3 separate regions of the Homo sapiens genome follow, and all the other regions are reported to be linked to region 1. Evidence: microRNA targets listed by miRTarBase, many of them from high-throughput screens and not tested one by one. Region 1 holds a microRNA gene; each other region holds the end of a gene's coding sequence.

Evidence for each region. The annotated mature microRNA hsa-miR-5692c reads AAUAAUAUCACAGUAGGUGUAC and lies in region 1 at 2,940-2,961, opposite strand. An mRNA with a match to its seed (bases 2 to 7 or 8) in the 3' UTR can be bound and repressed. Matches are read on the target gene's strand: a 7mer-m8 pairs with bases 2 to 8, a 7mer-A1 pairs with bases 2 to 7 and ends in A, and an 8mer does both.
Region 2: miRTarBase lists PALS2 as a target of hsa-miR-5692c. Seed matches in the 3' UTR shown: 7mer-m8 at 2,578-2,584, 7mer-A1 at 2,570-2,576 and 7mer-A1 at 1,269-1,275.
Region 3: miRTarBase lists DDHD2 as a target of hsa-miR-5692c. Seed matches in the 3' UTR shown: 7mer-A1 at 2,721-2,727 and 7mer-m8 at 2,779-2,785.

Annotation. Positions count from the first base shown.
Region 1 is chr5:135,800,057-135,804,211 of GRCh38, forward strand. It overlaps MIR5692C1 (microRNA 5692c-1), which reads right to left and starts at 3,019; the gene lies at 2,929-3,019. It also overlaps a transcript of SLC25A48 not described here.
Region 2 is chr7:24,687,324-24,691,323 of GRCh38, reverse strand. PALS2 (protein associated with LIN7 2, MAGUK p55 family member) reads right to left here. Exons shown (of 12, transcript NM_001303037.2): 12 at 1-3,886. The coding sequence ends at 3,710. Among named protein-coding and RNA genes, the nearest start is that of GSDME, 68 kb to the left of the region's middle.
Region 3 is chr8:38,259,743-38,263,742 of GRCh38, forward strand. DDHD2 (DDHD domain containing 2) reads left to right here. Exons shown (of 18, transcript NM_015214.3): 17 at 298-405; 18 at 858-3,094. The coding sequence ends at 379. It overlaps PLPP5 (phospholipid phosphatase 5), which reads right to left. Exons shown (of 7, transcript NM_001102559.2): 7 at 3,388-4,000. Among named protein-coding and RNA genes, the nearest start is that of PLPP5, 7.5 kb to the right of the region's middle.

The DNA.
Region 1 (4,155 bases):
AGGAACTGTACACCCCCCTGGTGATATTGTTTCTAATACCCAGGTGGAAAAACGATTATATTACTCCCAATATCCCAGGGGCTGTACAACCCGCCTGTGATATTGCTTTTAATGTCCAGTGGGGGATAGAACTCTATTACTATCAATATCACTGGGAGAGTACACCCCGCCCAGTGATATTCTTCCTAATATCCAGAAAAGGAGAGTTTGATGTTAGTCCAAATATAGCAAAGGGTGTACAGCCCGCTTGTGGTATTGTTCTTAATATTTAGGGAGCAGAAGATAATATTATTCCCAATATCGAAGGGGGTGTTCACCATTTCTGTAATATTGTTCCTAATATCCAGAAGCTAAGCAGATGATATTACTTTCAATATCACAGAAAATGTCCACACCCCCTTGTGATATTGTTCCTAATATGCAGGGGAAGAGAGGATGACATGAGTTTCAACATCGCAGGGGGTGTACACCCCGCCTGTAGTATAATTCCTATATCCAGAGGAAGAGGGAGGATGAAGTTATGCCCAATATCGCAGTGGCTGTACACCCACCCTCCCGGGTGATGTTGTTTCTAATATCCAGAGGGGAGAATATATTACTTCCAATATCGTAAACACCTTGAGTGTACACCCCCCTGGGATAGGGTTTGTAATATTTAGGAGGGGAGAGGGTGATACTACTCCTGATATCACGGGGTGTGTACACTCTGCTGTGAAATGGTTTGTAAGATCCGGTGGGGAGTGGATGATAATACACCCCATATCGCTGGGGAGTGTACACTCGCCTGTGATATGGTTCGTAACATCCAGAGGGGGAGAGGATGATATCACTCCCCATATCGCAGGGGCGTGTACACCCCTCTGTGATATGGTTCATAACACTCAGGGGAGGAGAGGGTTATAACACTCCCCATATCTTTGGGGTTGTACAACTCCCAATATCGCAGGGTGTGTACACCCTTCTGTGATATTTTTCATAATATCTAGGCGGGAAGAGGACGATATTACTCCCAATATCTCAGGGGTTGTAAACCCCCCTGTGATGTTGTTTGTAATATCCAGGGAAGGAAGATGATGATATTACTCCCAATATCACAGAAGGTGTATACCCTCTGTGATATTGTTTGTAATATCCAGGGTGGTAGGGGATGATATTACTCCCAATATCACAAGGGGTGTACACCCCCTGTGATATTGTTTGTAATATCCGGAAGGGTAGGGAATGATATTACTTCCAATATCGCAGGGGGTGTATACTCCCCTGTGATATTCTTCAAAATATCTAGAAAAAAAAGGGGATGATATCACTCTCAATATCGTAGGGGGTGTACTCCTTCCTGTGATATTGTTCATAGGAGGTGTACGTCTGCTTGTGATATTGTTGGTAATATCTAGGGGGCGAGAGGATGATATTACTCCCAATATCACAGGGTGTGTAAACCCCCTGTGATGTTGTTAATAATATTCAGTGGGGGAAGAAGATGATATTACTTCTTCTTATTAGACAAAGGGATGATATTACCTCCAATATCGCAGAAGGTGTACACCCTCTGTTACATTTTTCATAATATCCAGGAGGGGAGGAGATGATATTACCCTCAATATCACAGTGGGAATACACTCCCTATAATAAGGTTTGTAATATTAGAAGGAGAGGGGATGATATTACATCCAATATCACAGGGTGTGTGCACCCCGCAGTGATATTGTACGTAATATGCAGGGAGAAAGGGAATAATATTAGTCCCAATACTGCAGAGGGTGTACATTCCTCTATCATATTGTTCGTATTATCCGGGGGGCGGGGATGATATTACTCGCAATATTGCAAGAAGTGTACACCCTCTCTGATACTTTTCATAATATTTAGGGAAAGAGGGGATGATATTACTCCCAATATTGCAGTGGGTGTACACCCCAATGTTATATTGTTCATAATATCCAGAAGGAGATAAGATGCTATTACACCCAGTATTGCAGGGAATGTACAAACCCCTGTTACATTGCAAGGGTTGTACACTCCCCTGTTCATAATATCCAGGGGAAGAGAAGATATTACTCCCAATACCCTCATATCCTACGGAGATATTACTCCTAATATCACAGTGGGTTTACATCATATGACTACACCCTGTTATACTATTCATTATATCATAGGGAGATATTTCTCCTAGTATCACAATGGGTGTACACCATGCATGTATACCCTGTGATATTATCTGTAATATCCTAGGAAGATATTACTCCTACTATCACAGTGGGTATACACCATGTGTGTAGACCCTATGATATTATTTGTAATATCCTGGAAAAATATTACTCCTATTAACACTGTGAATGTACACCATGTGCATATACCTTGTGATATTATTTATAATATCCTAGGGAGGTATTACTCCTACTATCACAGTGGGTGTACACCATATATGTACACTTTTTGACATTATTTCTAGTATCCTTGGAAGATATCACTCTTAGTATGACAGTGGGGGGTACACCATGTGTGTACACCCTGTGATATTATTCACAATATCCTAGGGAGATATTGTGAATATCACAGTAGGGGTACACCATGTGTGTTCACCCTGTGATATTATTCATAATATCCTAGAGAGATACTACTCCTAGTATCACAGTGAGAATACAGAATCTGTGTACATTCAGTGAAATTATTTATAATATCCCAGGGAGATATTAATCCTAGTATCACAGGGAAGGTACACAATGTAAGTACACCCTGTGATATTATTTGTAATATCCTAGGGAAATATTACTCCTAGTATCACAGTAGGGGTACACCATGTTTGTACACCCTGTGATATTATTTGTAATATTCTAGGGAGATATTACTCCTAATATCACAGTGAGTGTGCACCTTGTGATATTCATAATATCCTAGAAAGATATTACTTCTAATATCACAGTAGGGTACAACATTGTGTACACCTACTGTGATATTATTCATAATAACCTAGAGAGCTATTACTCTTAATATCACAGTGGGTATATACAATGTTATATAATTAGTAATATCCTATGGAGGTATTACTCTTAATATCACAGTGGGTGTACACCTTGTGTGTACATCCATTGATGTTATTCATAATATTCTAGGGAGATATTACGTGTAATATCACAGTGGGTGCACTCTGTATGATGTTATTTATAATATACTTGGCAGATGTTATTTATAATATTCTTGGCAGATATTATTCCTAATATCACAGTGGGTGTACACCTTGTGAGTACAATCTGTGATATTATTCATAATATTCCAGGGATATATTAATCCTAATATCACAGTAGGTGTACACTCTGTGATACTATTCATAATATTCTAGGGATATATTACTCCTAATATCACTGTGGGTGTACACCCTGTGATATTATTTTTAATATTCTAAGGAGATATTACTCCTAATATCATAGTTGGTGTGCACCCTGTGATAATATTCATAATATTTTAGTGATAATATTTTTTAATATCACAGTCAGTGTACACCCTGTGATATTATTTGTAATATTCTAGGGAGATATTACTCCTAATATTACAGTGGGTGTACACCCTGTGATATTATTTGTAATATCCTAGGGAGATATTACACCTAATATCAAAGTGTTGTGATATTAAGTGTAATATCTCCCTAGGATATTATGAATCATATCAAAGGGTGTACAGGCACTGTAATAGGATATCGCCCTGTGTGTATACCCACTCCGATATTATATGTAATATTCTAAGGAGATATTACTCCTCATATAACAGTGAGTGCACATCTTGTGTATACCTTGTACACTCACTGTCTACACCCTCTGTGATATTAGGAGTATTATCTTCATAGGATATTATGAATAACCTCACAGTGAGTGCACACGCTGTGTGTACACCCACTGTGTTCTTAATATTCTAGGAAGATACTACTCTTAGGAAGATGTCACAGGATGTCTACACATGCTGTACATTTTCTGTGATATTAGGAATCATATCTCCCTAAAATATTACAAATAATGTCACATGATCTCCACACATGATGTACACCCCCTTTGACATTAAGAGTACTATCTCCCTATGATATTATGAATGATGTCACAGAAGGTGTCCACAGACAGGGTACACCTTCTGTGACATAGAAGTAATATCTCCCTAGGATATTAT
Region 2 (4,000 bases), not on the chromosome of region 1:
ATTGCCTTTTTCATGTTTAGTTAAGGTTCATTACTACAAAATTATTGGCTCTCTAGCCTGTGATTTCTGGATAATGGAGTACTGTTTCAGAAGTTACAAAAGTAAAATTTAAGTAGATTATTATTTTGAGCAATTTTCAAAATTGTTATCTTTAGTTTGCCAATTCAAAATAATTTTACCTAACTCTATGGCTATCCACCTTGAAAATCAACTCCAGTCACTGGGATCATGACACTTGTTATACATAAAAATAAGTACCATTTAATAATTTTTAAACCAAGGATCATTTTTTATTGTCATTGGGATATTATGGTCAAAGCAGTTAGTATCTGGACATAATCTATAATGTCACATGGTTTTATTGCTAACTTGGGTTATTATCTAAATTTGCCTTAATAATCTATTTGTTGCTTTAAAGGAAACTTCTTAAGAACTACTATAAATTTATTGGATTCTAGAATCTAGGATTTAGGCTACTAATGCTGTAGGCATACTGGGTTTCTCTTATAATTTCTATTTCAGAAAGCTATGTTCAGCAATTGTATAGTTAGAGTTAGCCAAAATAAACAAAGTCCTGATGTATTTGACATGTGATATTACCAAATATCACACAGAAATGGAGACTGCATAATAAAGGCATGGCTGTAATGAAAGTGAAAATTCTACTTTTTAGGGCCATCACATTTATTTCACTAAGCTATGGTTAAATGACTTATCCAGGCACATCACCTCTATGGGTATTTGTACATTTGAAAATGAAAAAATATATATATAGTCTTAGGTTGTGTACAGTCATGCCCTGAGTGCTGAAATGTGGACACTGACCTATCCACAAGGAGCCCTCAGGCACATTAATACGTTGGCACATCATGTTTCCCAAAAGCACATGCATGTGTGTGTCTATTTCAACTCTTAACAATTGCTCAACACCACTCTAAACCATTTTCGCTTCCATAAAGCTAATTATCGCAGATCTTCCCAAAAGAGAAGTTCACATTTCCTTGATCACAGCTATACTCTCATTACCTAGGAAGAACCCTGGGACCTCTGGGGCTGTTTGCCCCCGCAGAGCACTGCTCATTCCTGCAGATTCATTTGGGACTTGGGTTTCAAGTTCAATGATTCTTCATTGAGATACAATGAACTTATCTAACTGTATTCTTGTTAGTACGGGCATCTAGACTGAAATGAACTAAACTGCATCATTTCATTTTATATTAGGAGAAATCTAATGTGCATTAATTAAGTAGTCAATCATGAATACCATTTATAATAGAAATAATTCCTTTAAGTATATTTTCTAAGTAATACATTTTATATCACATAAGGCTAATATACATGATGTAAAAGTCATCTATTGTACCAAGATGATTGAAATATTTTGCAGATAAACTTCTTGTGCTGCTATAATTATCCCAAAGCTGTTTAAAGAGGCTCCATGCTGCAGCATGAAAGTACATTAGAGAATACAGCACATTTCCTGAGTGAAGAACTGAAATTTCTCTTAAAATTTCAAGTGTGTGTTGAAACATTGTCATAGGGCATCACCTTGATACTGTGCTTTAATTCATGTTGCTTTGAGAAGCCAAGAATTTGGTGTAAACACATGTAGTTTGAAAGTTTCCACTGTTATTAAAATAGTATAATCCATTTTGTCACCAATTCCCTGTCCTAGGACAAGAAACGTGAATTTGTGTTCTGGCCATGAAATCTAGAATCAAAAAAAGAAAAAAAAAAAAAAAAAGAAAAACCTATAGATTTCCAACTTTAACAATATGACAACTTGGGTGTTTTGTTTTATTGTGAAAAAGATTTTAAACAATGTGTCAATACTGCCTATTGTCATATATTTTCTTTTCCTTCAAAGTCCTCCCAGCTGGCGTTCCAAATGACAACTTTGGTGAGGGAAAAAACAAATTCAGCAGCCAGGTGTCTGGCACCTAACACCAGACAAAGATGACCATCAATATTTAAACACCTAATCCTTTAAAGTGTGAATAATGTTTACATGAAAAGCTAGCAACAATACAGAATGTGGTTACCTTAATTTAATAATGAGCTGCATCTCTGAGTATGTTTTAGGAAGAATTTCTATTATCCAAGAATCCTAAAGGAAGATATTAACTGAGGTGAATGTGGGAATTTGTATAAGTCAATGCTTCTAAAGGAGAACTTCTTTCGGTAATCATTAAACAAAAAGTACACTTCTTGGCTAGGTGCAGTGGCTCATGCTTGTAATCTCAGCACTTTGGGAGGCCAAGGTGGGTGGATCACTTGAGGTCAGGAGCTCGAGACCACCCTGGCCAACATGGTGAAACCCCATCTGTACTAAAAATACAAAAATTAGCCGGACATGGTGGCACCCAACTGTAATCTCAATTACTTGGGAGGCTGAGGCACGAGAGTCGCATGAACCCAGGAGGCAGAGGTTGCAGCGGGCTGAGATCGCGCCACTGTACTCCAGCATGGGTGACAGAGAGAGACTCCATCTCAAAACAAACAAACAAAAAAACAAAGTACATTTTTTAACAGATATGTAAAAAATATACAAAACATTTTATATATATTATATAATACATAATATACATATTATATAATGTATATATTTTGTGTGTATGTATACAAAATAGCTGACAATTATTTCCCAATTTTTTAAGTTGTTCAATGGGTTTGGTTCTCAACACAACAGACAAAACAGGTACCCTAAGGATCACATCACATTTCTAAAAGCACAAAAACCTCCAACTGCAAACTTAGAGGCATCTCTAAACATCACTAAAATTTGCAGAGGCATGATACATTTGCTGACCATGTTCTAATAAAACCATTGTTTAAAGTAGTAGGTTCCTTTTGTCAGTCAAAATTTTACATGTGAAAATAAACTTTCTTCAAGTGTCATTTTGCTGTAAGGTTTTACAGGATAAGGCACTCTCTCAGTCTGCATGACCTTGCTTCCAGCCCCAGAGCTTACTGTGTACATGTTAAATTAGTTAGCATCATATCACTGCAACAAATAAAAAGAATAACCTCAAAAGAGAGTGCAAGGTATTGCTCTTCAATTTTTCAGTAAAGATAGAAATGAAGAGACAAAACTAATATAGCTGTATAAATTAGAATGGATAGCCATACATCTCCGAAATAATGAAAATACGTAAACTGATCAGACTTTTGATGTCAGATTTAGATGGTAGTAGACTAGCTATAACACTGACTTAAAATTCTGCTTTTGTAAGAAATTTATAAGAAGGAAGGTCAATAACTATATTTTCTTCTATTAAGACTAACCCTTCACTATTTGAATACTGAACTAAATGACAGCTTTACAAAACTATTTCAAGTAATATTCATTATCACAGTGAAAATATGAGACCAATGTTAGAGTGAATGATTTGAAAATTCCTTTGATGAAAAAGGCAAGGGTACTAAATCAAAACATATACAAAATGCTTCAACGCATTTCTTTATGTGATATGAATAGAAAGATTATCCATACAAAGTTAGAAAAATTAAGATAAATTATATATTAGTACACCTTCCAACCACATTTTATATAAAAATTCAGAAGTGTACTATTATTTCAATCTACACCATAAAAATGCCTGGACTTAGCAGATAATCTTCTATCTGTGATGTATTTTCTCAGTAGAAGGTTTATTTGTTGCAGTCACTTTTTAAGAGTTTAATTTTCATTGTTAACCTTACTGAATCATCAGTAAACCCAGCTGATTGGGACCCACTGTGGTTCCATTCTCAGTTTCTCTATGGCAGTTTGCAGTTTTTCAAAGGCTTTGTCTAGATTATCATTTATGATGATCAAATCAAAATAGTGGTTGTATGCTCTCTGAATCCGTGCACTTTCATCCACTGTTTTCTTCAAGTCAGAGTCCTGTTGAAGAGTTTTAAAAGGAAATGTTTGTATTACAATGCATATTTACTTGCTCAAACTCCAACTAGAAGTGAATATAATAAATAGGTTAGATATATTTCTGGTAATTCTGGT
Region 3 (4,000 bases), not on the chromosome of region 1:
TTCCAGACCTGTAGTGACTTGTCCACCTCAGCCTCCCAGAGTGTTAGGATTACAGGCATGAGCCACCGCACCTGGCCTCTCTTCCTAGCTTTTTTATATTACTAGACTTAATGCCAGAGTTCTTTGCCAGGTCACCTTCCAAACCACTGCCAATTACATTACTTCTGAATCTCATTTCTTTGCAGAAGTAAAAAATAAACTTGCAAGATGGTTGTATGGATTAAATGAGATAATATATGTAAAACATTTGGCACAAGTGTTAGTTCCTTTTCTCAACATAATTTTTTCTCTTTATAGGGAGTCTGAAGATACAGTATTGCTCGTCCTCAAAGAGATCTACCAAACCCAGGGTATCTTCCTTGATCAGCCTTTACAGTAAAAATGACCCATCTATGGCTGCTTAATGTAAGTTTTAAAATGTCATATATATAGTGTAATTCTTACATATTAACATGTTATAATGAACTATGGAGCCTCAAGCTCTTTTTAAATATACTAGCTGTTGCCTGTCACCAAGATCTAGGCTGCTATTCATTTTTAGAGGGACTGGTAGAAATTCATGGGGAAAAAAACACAGTAGCCCATTTAGAGGAAGATTAGTGTATGTCTGTTTTGCTAGAGATTTTGTCCAATGACACCTGTCATTTTTTAGGATCTAAACTCAGAGTTTTAATGGTTCTGTTATCTAAGAGTTACTGTGGCAACAGTTATGATTTTAATTACCAACCACCCATCCTGAGATTTAAATTACTCAGCCTTTTAGATGTGAAATTACAAAGTCTGTGTATTCGACTCTGGCATTCTCTGTGGTTGCCTTCCAGTTGTGACTGCAGCTCTTCTCCCACTTTCTTCCCTAGACGGACATTGAGGGATCCTTCCCCAGAAAATCCACCTGTTTGTTGCTGCAATTTTCCTCTCCTCAGCTGCGTCATTTCCTGCATGTTGCCTGCCACTTACTCACCACTGGGGTCTTTGGAAGATAATCTTCCTCTTTGGAAATGAATGGAAAAGCAAAAGGCCCTATTACTTTTAACCACTGGCTTCATATAAACACTTGCCATTTTTTTCTGCATAGCTGGGGGTGGTTTGTGTCTTTAATTCTTTGATGATAGTTTATAGTTGCCACACTTTATTGATTAGTACTTGACAGGGTGTAAAGCCTATTTTGGGTTTGATTTGTTTTGGGTGGGGTAGACATGTTTTTAAGGAACTTATTGCTTATCTTTAGAAAATGTTCTAGTTTGGAAACAGATTCTTGAGATTCAGAAGGCATTTTGGAGTACACTTATCTCTTGTTTGTGTTGAACTGAAGGCTAAGTCTCAGTGGACATGGAAAAGACTTTTGGGTGATTTATTTTTGAACCTGCATTTCTTTCTTATGTGTAGTGTATGAAGAAAGACTAGAATGTAGCTTTAAAAAAGTGTTGTTTACTCTCTTAGAACTGACAGACTTATTGCCAGAAATCACTGATGTTCATTGTTTTTGCAACTGTTTGAGCTGCTGTAAGAGTCTAAAGTTGACAAGTTAGTTCATGTTAGGTGCATCTTTATAAAGCAAAGATGTTGTATATCCTAGGCCTCCCTTTTATATTTGATAGAAGTTATTTGCTAATAGCTTCTATTCTTACGTTGAAAATAGTTGTAAAAGCTGATGAACCTGAAATTGTGTAGCCTCTACAGGCTGCTGAGGTTCTAAATAAAACCTTTTAGTGGTGCCTTTATGGTGAAACAGAATTTGTCACCTGCCATTTCTACTTGAGCTAAGGTAGTATTGTGTATCCTCTTTCCTTCTTAGGTATCCATAATCCACAAAGCATATTTAAAAGGCTCTTGGCACGGGCAGCATTGGTTGAGCAGGTAGGTTTGGCTAGGGGGAAATGTTTAACTTGTTCTGAAAGAAAAACTTATGTCTGTAGGGTCCAAGAAACAGCTATTCCAGAGTCAGTGTCAGCTGAGTCTGGAACATATGAAGTGAGGTTTACTTCTAAGAACACAAGTGACTGCACACTAATTTTGTCAAGGCATCTTTTCACTACTTTGCTGTAGATTTTTCTTCTTCATTGGTCAGTTTGTCATTGTCTTTGTAGTTCTCTTTATGATAATCCTTTATACTTGCTCTCAGATTCCACAGGCCTCTGTTTATAGAGTGGCAAAGGCAGGCGAGCTGTGGTTTATTGTTTATAAATTTTTTTATAAATGTTATGGTATTCAAAGCCACTGACATTTAATATTTACTGAAGCCATTCCTTAGACAGCAGTGGTCTTTATCCCTTTCTGGAAAGAAAAGGAAAATGAAGGGTAATTACTGTCACCATGGAGATTGTAGAGGTAAGGTTGGGGTATAGGTCAGGCCTGGCCTTTCTTTGTCATCTGCTTATAGTCTAGTGCTAAGTATGCCACTAAGTTTCAGATATATGGAATACTTTATTTTTTTAAAGGTATATAAACTCTGAGTTATTGAGAATTAAGTATTCACTGTATATTAAGGGGAAGCTTTTGCCAAGTTGTGGTCTTCAAATTTATGTTTACTCTTCCTATTGGCAGAATAGGTGCTATTTAAGAGTAAACCAAAGGATAAGCAGAGGGAGTCCCTATAACCAAAGATGGACAGCATAGCCCTGGATAGCCAGATAAACCACTCTTTGTATTAAGAAATGTTTCTTTCCTAGTGGTGAGGGGTGGGTAACTGTGAAAGAGCTTTATATCTTGTCTATTCATGGTATTATAGCTGTATATTCCCAGGATGATAAGCTTGATTGAAATCCTGTATTTAGTCATATATTATTTGCGCTGCTTCATTTGTATCATGTGCAATCTCTAGACCAACCCTATTTTTAAACTCTGGTACAGCATCATTTTGTACATATTCCCAGCTGCAGAACTAGTATCACTTATCTCAGCAAAAGAGATTGTTTGCATGGAAAGATTAATAGCACTGATTAGATTTCTAATATTTTGCATTTTTGAAATGTTTGTTTTCTACGTGATTATATTTAAAACTTTAGTAAATACTAACATGAAACCATATTGACTAGTGGCCTACTTTTACCTGGACTCACCCGTCTCAAAGTCAAGAAAATCAGTACAGTCACGATTTTCTCTGTCTTTATGTATTACTAAAACAAAAAAATAGGTTTTGGGCAAAGAACTAATATGTAAGTTCTTTCCTGTTGACTGGTATTTTAATTGTCATAGGCAGAATTTAAGTTCAGAATTTAAAGCATGGCAATTATAAGAGACTTTCCTTTGGTATTTATAAATATTAGCCAGTACTATAGATAACAGCAGTTGAATCACTTAGGGCGGATGGGGAATTCAATGTTTTGCTTTACTAAAGTTCCAGCCCCTTAATGTACTTTAAATATTTAAAAAAGCACACATTTACCATTTTATTTGAATATCAGGTTTACTGAAGGAAAAAGATACATTGAAAATATAGGAACATACACATAAAAGACAATGTCATATTTAAAGTATAATCACAATAAAGAGAAAGGGAGCTGTAGGTCCTATGGCATCCATTCTGATGACATCCCATAATTGTTCCTTATATTCCATTGTGAAGAAGGGGCAGAAAAAGATTCATCTGTCCTTCAGATGACGATACCTGTCATTTTTCTTTTCTACCTTAGTCACTTGGCAGTGTTGGTGCATTTGAGCAGATCTTCAGTCATGAATGGAAGGAAAGAAGCTCACAAGTACAGTTATGGTCAAATGAGGTAGAAACAGTCATCTGTTAGTAGTGCTGAAACCACACTCCTGACCATTTTCTTCTTTATTATTGTTTTCACTTAGTAATTCAACAAATTGTTTATGCCCACGGTGTTCAAAATGCACAGCAGTACCAGATGGCTGGACTCAGATAAGATGCACACAAAAGTGATAAATTACCCTAGATTCGACATTTTCCTATTTAAGGCTTGATGGAATTGTCATCAGAGAAGGTAAACAGAATCAAAGTAATTTAGTTGGCCATGCCCTAGATTTTAAGATTTTGAGC